Homo sapiens: one gene and its partner. The protein of the gene in region 2 interacts with the protein of the main gene of each other region in a pairwise test. Each region holds a gene or a part of one and is shown on either strand. Other genes may lie near its edges.

The links. Proteins that work in one complex are often made in the same cells at the same time.
Region 1: the proteins of SETX (region 2) and UBA2 interact in a two-hybrid assay, tested with the Homo sapiens proteins (one study listed by BioGRID and IntAct).

What each region holds. Positions count from the first base shown.
Region 1 is NC_000019.10:34,431,355-34,438,380, reverse strand, and holds part of UBA2 (SUMO-activating enzyme subunit 2), read right to left. Parts: intron 6,521-7,026; coding exon 6,450-6,520; intron 5,034-6,449; coding exon 4,969-5,033; intron 3,514-4,968; coding exon 3,413-3,513; intron 1-3,412. UniProt on the Homo sapiens protein: The heterodimer acts as an E1 ligase for SUMO1, SUMO2, SUMO3, and probably SUMO4. It mediates ATP-dependent activation of SUMO proteins followed by formation of a thioester bond between a SUMO protein and a conserved active site cysteine residue on UBA2/SAE2.
Region 2 is NC_000009.12:132,295,982-132,303,007, forward strand, and holds part of SETX (probable helicase senataxin), read right to left. Parts: intron 4,823-7,026; coding exon 4,649-4,822; intron 2,332-4,648; coding exon 2,099-2,331; intron 1,074-2,098; coding exon 906-1,073; intron 48-905; coding exon 1-47. UniProt on the Homo sapiens protein: Probable RNA/DNA helicase involved in diverse aspects of RNA metabolism and genomic integrity.

The DNA of each region.
Region 1 (7,026 bases), on a different chromosome or scaffold from region 2:
ACACCTGAGTGTCAAATATGAGTTTACCTTGATCACACTAAACAGAAAAACTACTGGAAAGACAAACAGCAGCTTTCCAAGAAATTATTTCTCAAAGTTGTAAATGTTATCTAAATATTATTCGCAGCCATTTTCTTATATGTGTTTTTTTTTTTTTTTTGAGCAAAACTAAGTGGGTCTGGGGAATACAGCCATATCCTTATAATCTCCTGAAATTAAGTAAACTACAAGATTAATTTCAAGATATATCTCCCTACACAGAAAAATCTTAGGTGTTACTAAACCAAATACTCTTCATTTTATTGATATACGTTTCTTTTTGGCGGTGGGGAGACGGAGTCTTGCTCTGTCACCCTGGCTGGAGTACAGTGGCATAATCTTGGCTGCAATCTCCGCCTCCCAGGTTCAAGCAATTCTCCTGCCTCAGGCTCCCAAAGAGCTGGGATTACAGGCATCTCCCACCACTCCCAGCTAATTTTCATATTTTTAGTAGAGACGGGGTTTTTCCATGTTGGCCAGCTTGGTCTTGAACTCCTGACTTCATGTGATTCGCCCGCCTTGGCTTCCCAAAAGTGCTGGGATTACAGGCGTGAGCCACTGCGCCCAGCCCATTTTATTGATACACATTCAAGTTTAAAATTACAATTTAAGGAATTTATGCCTTGGAAGAAGTACATGACACCTGAGACAACTTTTCAAAACTATCAAATGAATCATCTTTCATTATCTCAGATATTCCTAACCTCAGTCTCTTCTTTTTTTCTTTTTGTCTGAGACGGAATTTCGCTCGTTGCCCAGGTTGGAGTGCAATGGCGTGATCTAGGCTCACCACAACCTCTGCCTCCCGGGTTCAAGTGATTCTTTTGCCTCAGCCTCCCAAGTAGCTGGGATTACAGGTGCGTGCCACCACACCCAGCTAAATTTTGTATTTTTAGTAGAGATGGGGTTTCACCATGTTGGCCAGGCTGGTCTCGAACTCCTTACCTCAGGTGATCCGCCCGCCTTGGCCTCCCAAAGTGCTGGGATTACAGGCGTAAGCCACCATGCCCAGCCACCTTCAGTCTTAATACACAGTGGTGTGTCAGAATCACAGTAACAAGGATATAAAAAGCAATGTCTGGCCGGGCGTGGTGGCTCATACCTGTAATCCCAGCACTTTGGGAGGCCAAGGCAGGCGGATCACCTGAGGTCAGGAGTTTGAGACCAGCCTGGCTAACATGGCAAAACCTCATCTCTACCAAAAATGCAAAAATTAGCCAGGCTAATTGTTCAAGAATCAAAACTCTCAAATACTGTTTTAATATAAATTGCAGCAGATTTAGAGTTTTCTCTGAAACACCATTTCTGATGCCCTCAGCCTTCCAATATGCTTTCTTGAGGGTAGCCACATGGCAAGCAGTCATGAGACTCATACTGCAATGCAGACAGAGAACTTCCGTCTTGATCTGTCAACAGATACTGAAGGCCTCCACTTATTCAACAACTTAATACGCACTGACATACACAACAGTCTTTTGTAGAATGGTATTCAATAAGGTTCCAAGAATAACATTTAACAGTTAAAAGAAACAAAGACACAATTTCTAACATGAATAAGCTGCCAAAAAAAATTAGACGCAACCAGCAAATGTTAAGTACATTATAATTCTCTTTCTATAGTTTCAAAACATGGAAAACGACTCTTCAAATGTAACTACAATATTTAACTTCTTAAAAGAACTGAAAGAAAAAATATCTGAATAGCAAATGAAGCCGTGTTGAGGTTTTAAAAACTGAGATATGTGCCAGGCATGGCGGCTCACACCTATAATCCCAGCACTTTGGGAGGCCGAGGCAGGTGGATCACCTGAGGTCAGGAGTTGAAGACCAGCCTGACCAACATAGAGAAACCCCGTCTCTACTAAAAATACAAAATTAGCCAGGCGTGGTGGCGCACGCCTGTAATCCCAGCTACTCGGGAGACTGAGGCAGGAGAATCGCTTGAACCAGGGAGACGGAGGTTGCGGCGAGCTGAGATCGCGCCACTGCACTGCAGCCTGGGCAACAAGAGCGAAATTCTGTCTCAAAAAAATAAACAAATAAATAAATAAACCAAAACAAAACTGAGGTATGAGCACACAGGTATTTTGTTCTATTATTCTCTAGTTGTATTTAAATGTTTGAAGTACTTCACAAATACACCCCTAAAAAGTTTTCAAAGTTCCCTTCCACATTATAAGCCCAGACTCTTAGACAACAGAATTTTTTGGTTTTTTTTTTTTTGAGACAGAGTTTCGCTCGTTGCCCAGGCTGGAGTGCAATGGCGTGATCTCAGCTCACCGCAACCTCCGCTTCCCCGGTTCAAGGGATTCTCCTGCCTCAGCCTCCCAAGTAGCTGGGATTACAGGTGCACACCACCACGCCCGCTGATTTTTGTATTTTTAGTAGAGACAGGGTTTCACCATGTTGGACAGGCTGGTCTCAAAATCCTGACCTCAGGTGATCCGCTCGCTTCGGGTTCCCAAAAAGTGCTGGGATTACAGGCATGAGCCATCACGCCTGGCTTTTTTTTTTTGAGATGGAGTCTCACTCTGTTGCCCAGGCTGGAGTGTGGTGCCATCTTGGCTCACTGTAACCTCCACCTCCGAGGTTCAAGCAATTCTCATGCTTCAGTCTCCCAACTAGCTGGGATTACAGGTACACGCCTCCACACCCAGCTAATTTTTGTATTTTTTGTAGAGACGTGGTTTCACTACATTGGAGAGGCTGGTCTCGAACTCCTGACCTCAAGTCATCTGCCTACCTCAGCCTCCCAAAGTGCTGGGATTACAGGCATGAGCCACTGCACGCAGCCGACACAAAGAAATTTTTGATGCCTGGTATATCATGCTTACCACTCTAAGGATTTTAATACAAAAGTCAAATGAAACAAAATGGCAGAGCTGAAAGATTTCCTTGCCCATAGTCTTTTGAGCACGTTTATAGCATTTTAAGTTTGTTTTTTGAGACAGAGGCTTGATCTGTAGCCCAGGCTGGAGGGCAGTGGTGCAATCTCAGCTTACTGCAACCTCTGCCTCTCAGGTTCAAGTGATTCGCCTGGCTCAGCCTCCCAAGTAGCTGGGATTACAGGCGCCGGCCACCATGTCCAGCTAATTTTTGTATTTTTAGTAGAGATGGGGTTTCACCATGCTTGCCAGGCTGGTCTCAAACTCCTGACCTCAGGTGATCCGCCCACCTCGGCCTCCCGAAGTGCTGGGATTACAGGTATGAGCCACTGCACCTGGCCCCGCATTTTAAGTTTTATATAAGCATAAAAGTCCTTACATTTTGGATGTTCACCTGTTCATTTTATATAAATACAAAGTTTATTTCCTCCTGCTCCAAGGTCTCAAATAAATATTTGGGAAGTTAAAAAAATAAAACTTTTCTTTACCTTTTTGATAGTAGTTACTTGTCCAAGATACCCAGCTGTTCCACTTTCAATAAGAGGAACATCAGCTGCCAGGCACATTCTATTAACATGGTTTCGGGCAGCTGGAAGTAAAACAAACAGTATGAGTTTTTGGGAAAAAAAAAATTAGTTATCTTTAATTAGGATGACACAGACTCAAAACTATCTTACTGGCTTCATTTTTTGTACAATTTTCTTATAGCTATGGCCAGAATAATACAACTGTTAATTACAGACATTTAAGAGACATTCACTTAGCAAAATATCAAATAGAATTTATATCACAAATTTACTCCAGGAGAAGTACCCACAGAAACACATAATCTTAAAAATCCAACGTGCCATATTTCTCTTCTATTGCTGTACCTTACACAAAACACTGTTTCAAGGTGTTCCTAAACTCACCACTATTCTAATATAACTAGCAGATAATACATGATAGAAATGAAGGCAGAATGTGGAATATCAACTTGGAACTATTAAAGTAGTTTAAGGCTAGGGAAAAAAGATGAGTCAGGTTAAGAGAGTAATTTCACGCCAGGAGCACTGGCTCATGCCCATAATCTCAGCATTCTGGGAGGCTGAGGTGGGAGGACTGCTTGAAGCCAGGAGTTCGAGGCCAGCCTGGGCAACAAAGCAAGACTTCATCCCTACAAAAATAAACATAAAAAAATTAGCCGGGTATGGTGGTACCTGTCTGCAGAGTAGCTACTGCAGAGGTTGAGGTAAGAGTATCACCTGAGCCCATTTGAAGGCTTCAGTGAGTTATGATCACACCAGTGCACTCTAGTCTGGGCAACAGTGAGACCCCCCAAGCCTTAAAAAATAAACGTAATTTTGACTTTTCCTTGTGTTTTTTATTTAGATATTTCTGGCCCAACTTGTTGTAAACTCACTTAGTAGATATACTTTTACATGTGGAAGTAATTACAGACAAAGAATATCACTCAAGCATCCCCCACCCCACCCTCCAGTCACACTTTTTCTTTTTTTGAGACAGGGTCGCACTCTGTCACCAAGGCTGGAGTGTAGTGGTGTGATCTAGGCTCACTGCAACCTCTGCCTCCTGGCTTCAAGCGATTCTCCCACCTCAGCCTCCGGAGAAGCTGGGACTACAGGCACATGCCACCACACCGGCTAATTTTTGTGTTTTTTGGTAGAGACGGTTTCACCATGTTGACTAGGTTGGTCTCGAACTCCTGACCTCAAGTGATCCTCCTGCCTTGGTCTCTCAAAGTGCTGGGATTACAGGCGTGAGCCACTGTGCTGAGCCACAGTCACACTTTTTGAGAGCTTTTCACTTCACTTCTATTTATACCTTTTGGTAGAAATGCAGAGAATATGATAGCTAAATTCCCGCCTGGAATAAGTCATTTCTATATAAAACTGCAATCAATGGGCATGCTTTAAACTCGATCATTTCTCTTAAGTCTTTTAAGTTCTAAATCACAATAGTCTAATAAATATTAAATTTGTAAACAAATTTGATATGGGAGAGAGGAAATACTGAGAAATTAAAAGTATTAAAATAACCTCACCTCTGTTATCTAAAGCATTCATAACCAGTATAAACTGTCGGAAAAATTCCACATTATAGTCAGGGCTACAAAACAAAATAAAAAAAGGTCACCAAAATAACTAGCCTTCCACATGATCTTTGCAGTATAATAAACAGTTCTGAAAAAAACATAGTAACTGTAAACAAAACTGATATCAGGATTATATGTCATATAGATAGTAAGGTTTGACTCTTTCCAAACATAAGCAGATTTTAAAGAAATTATTTCCTTCAAATTCCTATCCTTTTTGGCCAGCTAGGGCACAAGAGAAAGATCTCAAACTGGCAGAAAGATGGCATGACTTCACTAGTCCCACTAGGCCTTCTTTGGGCAGCAAGTGCCTGGGAACGCATAAAGAACACATTCCCAGGATCTGCCTGGCCTCTGACTTCACCTCACATGATCAGGATCAGGCAGGGTTCAGGCCCCTAGGGTCTCTGTTTTTAGCAGCACTGGGAAAGCAACACAGGGTAAGGAGGTTATAGGGCTACAGGCAGGTTCACAGAGTAAAAAACTAAAAAACAAGCCGGAGATACAGGCCGGGTGCAGTGGCTCACGCCTGTAATCCCTGCACTTTGGGAGGCCAAGGCGGGTGGATCACCTGAGGTCGGGAGTTTGAGACCAGCCTGGCCAACATGATGAAACCCCGCCTACTAAAATACAAAAATTAGCTGAGTGTGGTGGCGTGCGCCTGTAATCCCAACTACTCAGGAGGCTGAGACAGGAGAATCGCTTGAACCCAGGAGGCGGAGGTTGCAGTGAGCCAAGATCATGCCACTGTACTCCAGCCTGGGCAATAAGCGCAAAACCCTATCTCACACACAAAAAAAACACAATCCGGAGATACAAATGCCCTGAGAAAGTGTTAAGTACCTCAATTCCAGTACCTCAAACAAGGACTATTTTTAACACTATTTACTTGCAAGCTAAACCACCATAGATAAAGGACAATTTCGGCCCACAGTTCCTTTGCTCCAACTCCTCCAAAATTATATATTTACTCTATCTTTACTGAGATAAATATATTTATGTACTGTCAATACTACTGCCCTACCACAATTCCAAGTGTTATATTACAGAAGTCAGAGTCATACTACAGATTATTTTGGGAGGGAAACTTTTAAACAAAAAAAGGCAAACACTTTAGAAAAGTCTGAATCATCATAAATAAGGATATTTCATAGTTTAAAATATCTTCTTACTTAAGGCAAGCATATAAGGTCTTTATAAATTTCCAAGTAACTTATTTATTAAAAGTATTAAACTATCTCACCATTCTAAATCATTCAAACCATGTATTTATGAACTGGTAAAAAGAATGCCACTCTGTAAGCAGAAACCACCACTGTTTAATAATTCTAGAAAAATCATTTTTTTTAAAAAAGCTGAATGACTTTGAGCTTATATATTTGGCTTACAAAACCCTTATACAACTTTGCAATGTAATCACTATAGCATACTTCATGATGCTGTCATGGTAGGCAACGATATTAGCTTTCGGGTAAAACTGCAGTACACTTTCCTTGGCAACCTGGAAAAATAAACAACACTGAATTACTACAATATTTCTGTTCCTATCTGAAATCTGCTTCTGGAAGCCACAATGCTGTTATCTACTTACATAGTACCTTATTTATATTAAACACCAAAGAAGTCCAAAAATGTGAGAAAATTGCATTAGGGTTAAGCTACACTTATAAAATTATACTTTTATACTTATAAAATAACCGGAGAGCCCCCCCTGACCCACGTACCACCAAACACACTTCTACATGAATGGCAAGCTTCAGCAAAAATACAACATGAAGTAACCAAGTGTCATTCATTCATTCACTTAACAAGTATTTACTGAGCATCTTGCATGTACCAGGAACTATACAACGTACATGTCAAGCAAGAGAGACATTAATCAAATAACAATCCAGATTAAGTTCAACTACAGACTCTGATAAATGCCATGAGAATGACAGGAAAAGGCCAGGCATGGTGGCTCATGCCTGTAATCCCAGCACTTGGGAGGCCAGTGTAGGAGGATCC
Region 2 (7,026 bases):
TTGATTTTGGCATTGGAGTTTTCGTCTGAATGCCCCTTCCTCTGGTTCTACAATTTGCCACATATACATACCAAACAAACACACAAAAAATATGGGTGAGCTCTATTACATAGCTTTAAAGTTTGTCTTTACTTCCATGTATTTTTGAAAGTTCTCGTAATAAAGTTAAAAATAAATAAAAGCATCTACATCTAACACTGATATTTAAAATTACTCCAGCAAAAAAATTTGTCATAACTGCTCTGAGCCTTACTTTATCATCCACTTACTTTAATGAATACTCAATCCAAGCCAGGCACAGTGGCTCACGCCTGTAATCCCAGCACTTCGGGAGGCCGAGGCGGGCGGATCACTTGAGGTCAGGAGCTCGAGACCAGCCTGGCCAACATGGCGAAACCCCATCTCTACTAAAAATACAAAAATTAGCTGTGGGTGGTGGTGTACGCCTGTAATCCCAGCCACTAGGGAGGTACTCGGGAGGCTGAGGCAGGAGAATCACTTGACCTGGGAGGCAGAGGTTGCTGTGAGTCAAGATCGTGCCACTGTACCCTAACCTGGATGACAGCGAGACACTGTCTCAAAAAAAAAAAACAAAAAACCACAATCCAACCAAAATGCAGCCCAGCATTCACAGCATTCTACGTGACCTACCGTGAAGCCTGAAGACCATCATTCTAGTCCTTACGATTTGTTTCACATAAGATAGTGGTTTTTTCCTCTTTTTATTTCCCATAACCTTCCCTCCCTCTGCCACCCTTTTCTCTGACACAGTTACACACAATATAAAAAATATATACAAATCAAAGAGGAAATGGCATGTTAATACTTATTTACATGTCAGTTAACTCAAGTAAAGTAAAATGATACAGCTAGTTAACAGCATCAGTGCCCTCACCCATACCTACCTCTGTCAGTAGACGATAGAGGAGGCCAACAATAGTTTTTGATTTTCCTGTTCCAGGTGGTCCATGAATCAAGCAGATTTTGGCAACTGATGGTGAGTGTTTCACCATAGCATATGCAGTTTCTATTGCTTTCTTTTGATCTTCATTGAAATCTCTTAAGTACGCAATCTATATAAAAAACACATTTTTGAGAATGAGTTGCTGTTTCTGTAGTGGAATTTGAAAGGAAGAACATGAAAAAGACCTGTCCAAATTTCTTTCAATGCATGAGACAAAAGCTTTGGTTATGGTCAGACAAGACAAGGACACCAAAGTGACCTTTAATCTAAAAAGCACGTTCACTACTGGAAAGAAAGCTAATTACTTACTAATTACTAATTAGTGTCTGTAACGCTTCAAGTACTTACAAATACAACTGTACTTTTATTTTTTATTCTTACAAAGATAATCACAATAAATTGCATTTACTAATCCACAACTTTTCTTCTATTTACTACTCTGTTTTTTTCCTTCTTTAGTCAATTTTCTCCTTAGTGAAAACATCCCAAGACTATTTATTTCCTAGCACATGTGATACAGTGGAAAAAGCATGTATGCCAGGGGAAGATCTGGGTGTAAGCTTCACTTGCACTTACAAGCTAGGCCACTACGCTCCTAACCCAAGCCTTGGCCTCTGTTACTCATTAAATCTAGGATTCCTTAAGAGGTGAGAACAGACTGAGATAATGCACATGAAAGCCATAGCATACAGCTCTAGAGTTTCTAAATAGTTAGTTTCCTTTTGCATTTCTCTGTTAACTTCCTAGAGTTTATACACAGCTTCACATGTTCAGTTGACAACTTCATCTTTGCATTTCCAACAATACCGGCCAATTCTCCATCAATCATTCAAATGTAAATTTAACACCACTAAACCTGAGACTTCTCACCTAATGCACATTAAGTAGGCTGCTGACCTAACATTTTAATGTTGCTCTTCCAGCAACCTTCGACGCTTATTGTACTGTACCTTTTCCTGAAGTGAGCTGACTTAACCTAAATTACATACTTTGCAATACTAAAGAAAACTAACACTAAACTGTTCACCGTGAACACATTTTTGTTGTAAACATATAGGAATACATAGCAGCTAAAAAATATGATGCTTTAACATCTTAACATGAAATTATCTAGTATCATACATCATCACTCACAATTCTCTCAGATGTTGTAGTCAGTAAATCTTTTGTACAGAAGTCCATAGGGTTTGGATTCAGAACAGCTCTAGCCAGTTGGTTCCGACTACCCAACAGAGACATGGCTTTCAACTTCCTTTGTGTAGTTACCAGAGAACTGATTACAATACAATTCACAAGTTCGTTTAAATTGGCCGGAAAGTTCTCTTGAGTCTGGATGGAAAGGTAACACTCAGTTTTCCCATTACGCACTATCATCAAGAAAGAGAAAAAGCAACTTCAGTTATCACTGAATAATGCTGCCTAGTTGTAAAGGTCATGCAGAATTAGGTATTTTTAACATATTTTTGGATATTATTTACATAATTTACCCAGTAAATATTTATGGACTGCTTCCTGAACCCAGTAATGTTCTGTCCTCCGGAGGCTTATTTTCTAGAAGATGGAGGCAGATAACCAAATAAATATGTCAGGTGGTAGTAAGTGCTCTGAAGAAAGCACACAAAGGGAGGAAGTGATGGGGATGGAGGCAGATAAGCTGGTCCGAGAAGGTCTTCCTGATGAAATATTTGAGCAGAGACTTGAAGTAAGGGAGTAAACAGTACTCAGCAGAGGGTAAATAGTACTACATGCAGAAAATAAGCAACTGCAAAGATCGTAAGACAGAGATGTGCCAGGAATATTTTAGAAATAGGGAGAAGGCTAACATGGATAGAAGGAAAAATAGGGAGAAGAACGCTTAGCGACTCAGAGTAAAACGGGGCTACATTTTATAGGGCTGTGCAGATCACAGTAATGACTCTGAACGCTATTCAGGATCAGGGTAGAAAACCATTGGGCACTCTGTGTAGGGAAATAACATGCTCTATCTCACAAACTAAAAGAACCACTCTTACCTCAGAACAAAGAATAACTACAATGAGAAAAGTACAGAAACAAAAAGACCACTTACAAGGTTACCATAGTAATTTAGGTAAAAGTTAATGACAGCTTGGACCAGGAGGCACTAGTAGACGTGGGAACTGGATTTGGGATATATTGCAAAGGAAAAATCAATCATATCTGCTGACAAATTAGAAGTGAGGTGTGAGAGAAAGTAAGGATCATGGATAACTCCAAGGTTTTTGGCCTGAGTAACTGAAAGAAGTGAGGCCCCAATTAACAAGATGGGAAAGAATGAAGGAAGTGCAGATGTCAGGCAGAAAATCAAGTGTTAACTTTTGGACTAGTGGATTTGAAATGTCTAACACATTTCCAAATGGAGGTATCCAAGACATGATTTTGATCTATGAGGAGTTCAGGGAATGAGACTGCCTTAGAACTATAAATTTGGCAAAGGTAATCATTTTCAAGAGCCAAAAGCACAGAGTAAGCCATCAATCCTCACTGCAACTCTTCTAAATGTATCCTATATTCTACAGAATTAAGCCCTGATCACACAAATAAACATGGTACACCTGTTATAATGCAGTACAATGTTGACACACTTTATTGCTATATTAATATATCATGCAAAAAGGAGAAGGAATAATGAAATAATGTTCTTCTCTTCACATAACTAAGACTAAAAAAGTTGCAATTGCCAAAAAGGCAGTTTGGCATAAGAAAAACAATGTGGACTTTGCAGTCAACAAAAGCAGGCTTCAATTCTGGACTTACCAATTAACACTGATGACAGCCTTGAAAATAGGTTTACTTAACATCCCTGAACCATGATTTCCTGGGGAGCAAGGAATAATTTCTTCTACCTTTTGGGGCTTTGGGGAAGATTATAAATGTACATAAGAAGGACAAGTCTCGGCTGGGCGCGGTGGCTCACGCCTGTAATCCCAGCACTTTGGGAGGTTGATGGGGGTGAGGAGTTCGAGACCAGCCTAGTCAACATGGTGAAACCCCGTCTCCACTAAAAACACAAAAAATTAGCCGGGACTGGTGGCGGATGCCTATAATCCCAGCTACTTGGGAAGCTGAGGCAGGAGAATCGCTTGAACCCAAGAGGCGGAGAGTGCAGTGAGCCGATACAGCACCACTGCACTCTAGCCTGGACAACAAGAGTGAAACTCCGTCTCAAAAAAAAAAAAAAAAAAAAAAAAAGGGACAAGTCTCACTGCATACATCTGGTATTCATTAAATTTAGGCTAATATTTTTGTTATTAAATTACCTAGGGAGAAACATACAACGGATGGAAGTGATGTAAGCAGATTCCTCAAGCTGCCTTACAGTGAGTTTTATGTTTGGTCATCTCATTAGTAATTGGCCACAAAACCAAGGATGAAATGTAATTTAACAAACAACAGATGGTCTGCAAATGGTCCATTTTATAGCAAACACAATGATGGATAAAGAAATGTAACAAAAGGATAGAACATTACAAAAATAAATACAAGGTCTTTTCCAGTTAAGTCTAGAAAAACTAGAAAAGAGACTCTGAATGGCCATGTAATCAACATAGCAAAAACATGTTCGGTAAATGTCTATCAAATACACTTGATATACACAATTGAGAAGTAGATTATTAGATGAGACTGTATCTGACATTTCCTGTCAATGCCTCATTATTTACTTACTGACTGACGTGCGGCGAAATTTATGAACATAACCAGAATGATATTCGTGGAGATCTTGTATGTCATTTCTCTCTGTATCTTTCTTCTCTTCATTTATTCTCTCAGGAGCTAAAAACACCAAATCGTTTTCCTTTGGATAAAGCTGTTTAGCCAGTTCACATTCTTCCAGATAAACTATGAAACAAGAAGAAGTCGGAATTCATATAACTCTAATAGAATTATTTTAAATAAGATTAACTTAAAAGAAATTAAATCCTTGTATTAAGTTCAAAAATACACAGCACTAAAGGACTCTGCATATACTTTAAAATGGTAATCTAATCCAATCAAAAACTTCAAATATTAAAAATATCAATTATAGAATATAGTTTTCTTCAAAACTGCTATAAGGCCAAAATAGACAAAACTATAATATTGAAAAGTAGCTAATAAATTTTCTTTCCTTTAGGTTTATTCTGCTTTTTTTTTTTTTTTTTTTTTTGAGATGGAGTCTCGCTGTGTTGCCCAGGCTGGAGTGCAGTGGCGCGATCTCGGGTCACTGCAAGCTCAGCCTCCCAGGTTCTCGCCATTCTCCTGCCTTAGCCTCCCAAATAGCTGGAGGCGCCCGCCACCACGCCCGGCTAATTTTTTTGTATTTTTAGTAGAGATGGGGTTTCACTGTGTTAGCCAGGATGGTCTCGATCTCCTGACCTCGTGATCCGCCCGCCTCAGCCTCCCAAAGTGCTGGGATTACAGGGGTGAGCCACTGTGCCTGGCCTATTCTGGTTTTTAACTAAATTTCTCTCATTTGTTTCCAACTTTCAAAACCCCCGAAGAAAATTCGGAAACAGATCCAAGTAGTTATACACCGCATAATGATGTTGTGGTCAGTGATGGACCGGATATATACAACAGTGGTCCCATAAGATTATAATATATTTTTACTGTATCTTTTCTATGTTTAGATACACAAATACTTCCCCATGTTACAATTACCTACAGTATTCAATACGGTAACATGCTGTACAGGTTGGCAGACTAGGTGTGTGGTAGGCTACACCGCCTAGGTTCCTCTAAGTACACTCTTACTTCTCATGATGTTGGCATGATGATGAAATCGCCTGACACATTTCTGAGAATGTATCCCCATCATTAAGTGACATGTGATTGTACATACAAGAATTTTGCAACTTCTACGCATTTCAAACAAGTGGGGAAAGACGGTTGTAAACTACATGGGACTAGGAAAACAGAGAAAGCACTGGAATAAAGTTCAGTACCAACTGCCGAATCTAGCCCTATACTCTGAAAAATACAAACCACTGCTGAGAGAAACTGAAGACAGCCTGAACAAATGAAGAAATGTACTAAGTTCAAGGCCTAAGACTTAATATTGTTAAAATGTCAGCTGTCCCCAAATTAATCTTTAGAGTCAAAGCAATCCTAGTAAAAATACCAGCAGATGGCCGCCAGGCACAGTGGCTCACGCCTGTAATCCCAGCACTCTGGGAGGCCAAGGCAGGTGGATCATGAGGTCAGGAGATCGAGAACATCCTGGCCAACACGGTGAAACCCCGTCTCTACTAAAAATACAAAAAATTAGCCGGGCATGGTGGCAGGCATCTGTAGTCCCAGCTACTCGGGAGGCCGAGGCAGGAGAATGACGTGAACCCAGGAGGCGGAGCTTGCAGTGAGCCGAGATCACACCACTGCACTCCAGCCTGGGTGACAGAGCAAGAATCCATCTCAAAAAAAAAAAAAAAAAAAAAGGCCAGGTGTGGTGGCTCACGCCTGTAATCCCAGCACTTTGGGAGGCCGAGACGGGCGGATCACCTGAGGTCAGGCGTTTGAGACCAGCCTGGCCAACATGGTGAAACCCCATCTCTACTAAAAATACAAAAATTAGCCAGGCGTCGTGGCAGGCGCCTGTAATCCCAGCTACTTGGGAGGCTGAGGCAGGAGAATCGCTTGAACCTGGGAGGTGGAGATTGCTGTGAGCCAAGATTGCGCCATTGCACTCCAGCCTGGGCAACAAGAGTGAGACTTTGTCTCAAAAAAAAAAAAAAAAAAAGCAAAAAAAAAAAAAAAAACCAGCAGGCATTTTTATAAATGTTGACAAGTTGATTCTAAAACTGATGACAATAAAAAGAAACTTTTTACAAAGAACAAAACTGAAAGGCTGACTATCCAATTTCAGTATTTTTTATAAAACAACAATAAGAGACTGTGGTATTGGTGGAAGGCAGCTATACAGATAAAGAAAACGGTGTTTAAAAGCAGACCTGCAATCAAGATCAACTGATATTCCGACAAATATGCCAAGTTATTGAATGGCAAGGTTATTCAATGAGAAAGGCTACATTTTTTTTAACAAGTAACACTAAAACTGAGCACCTATT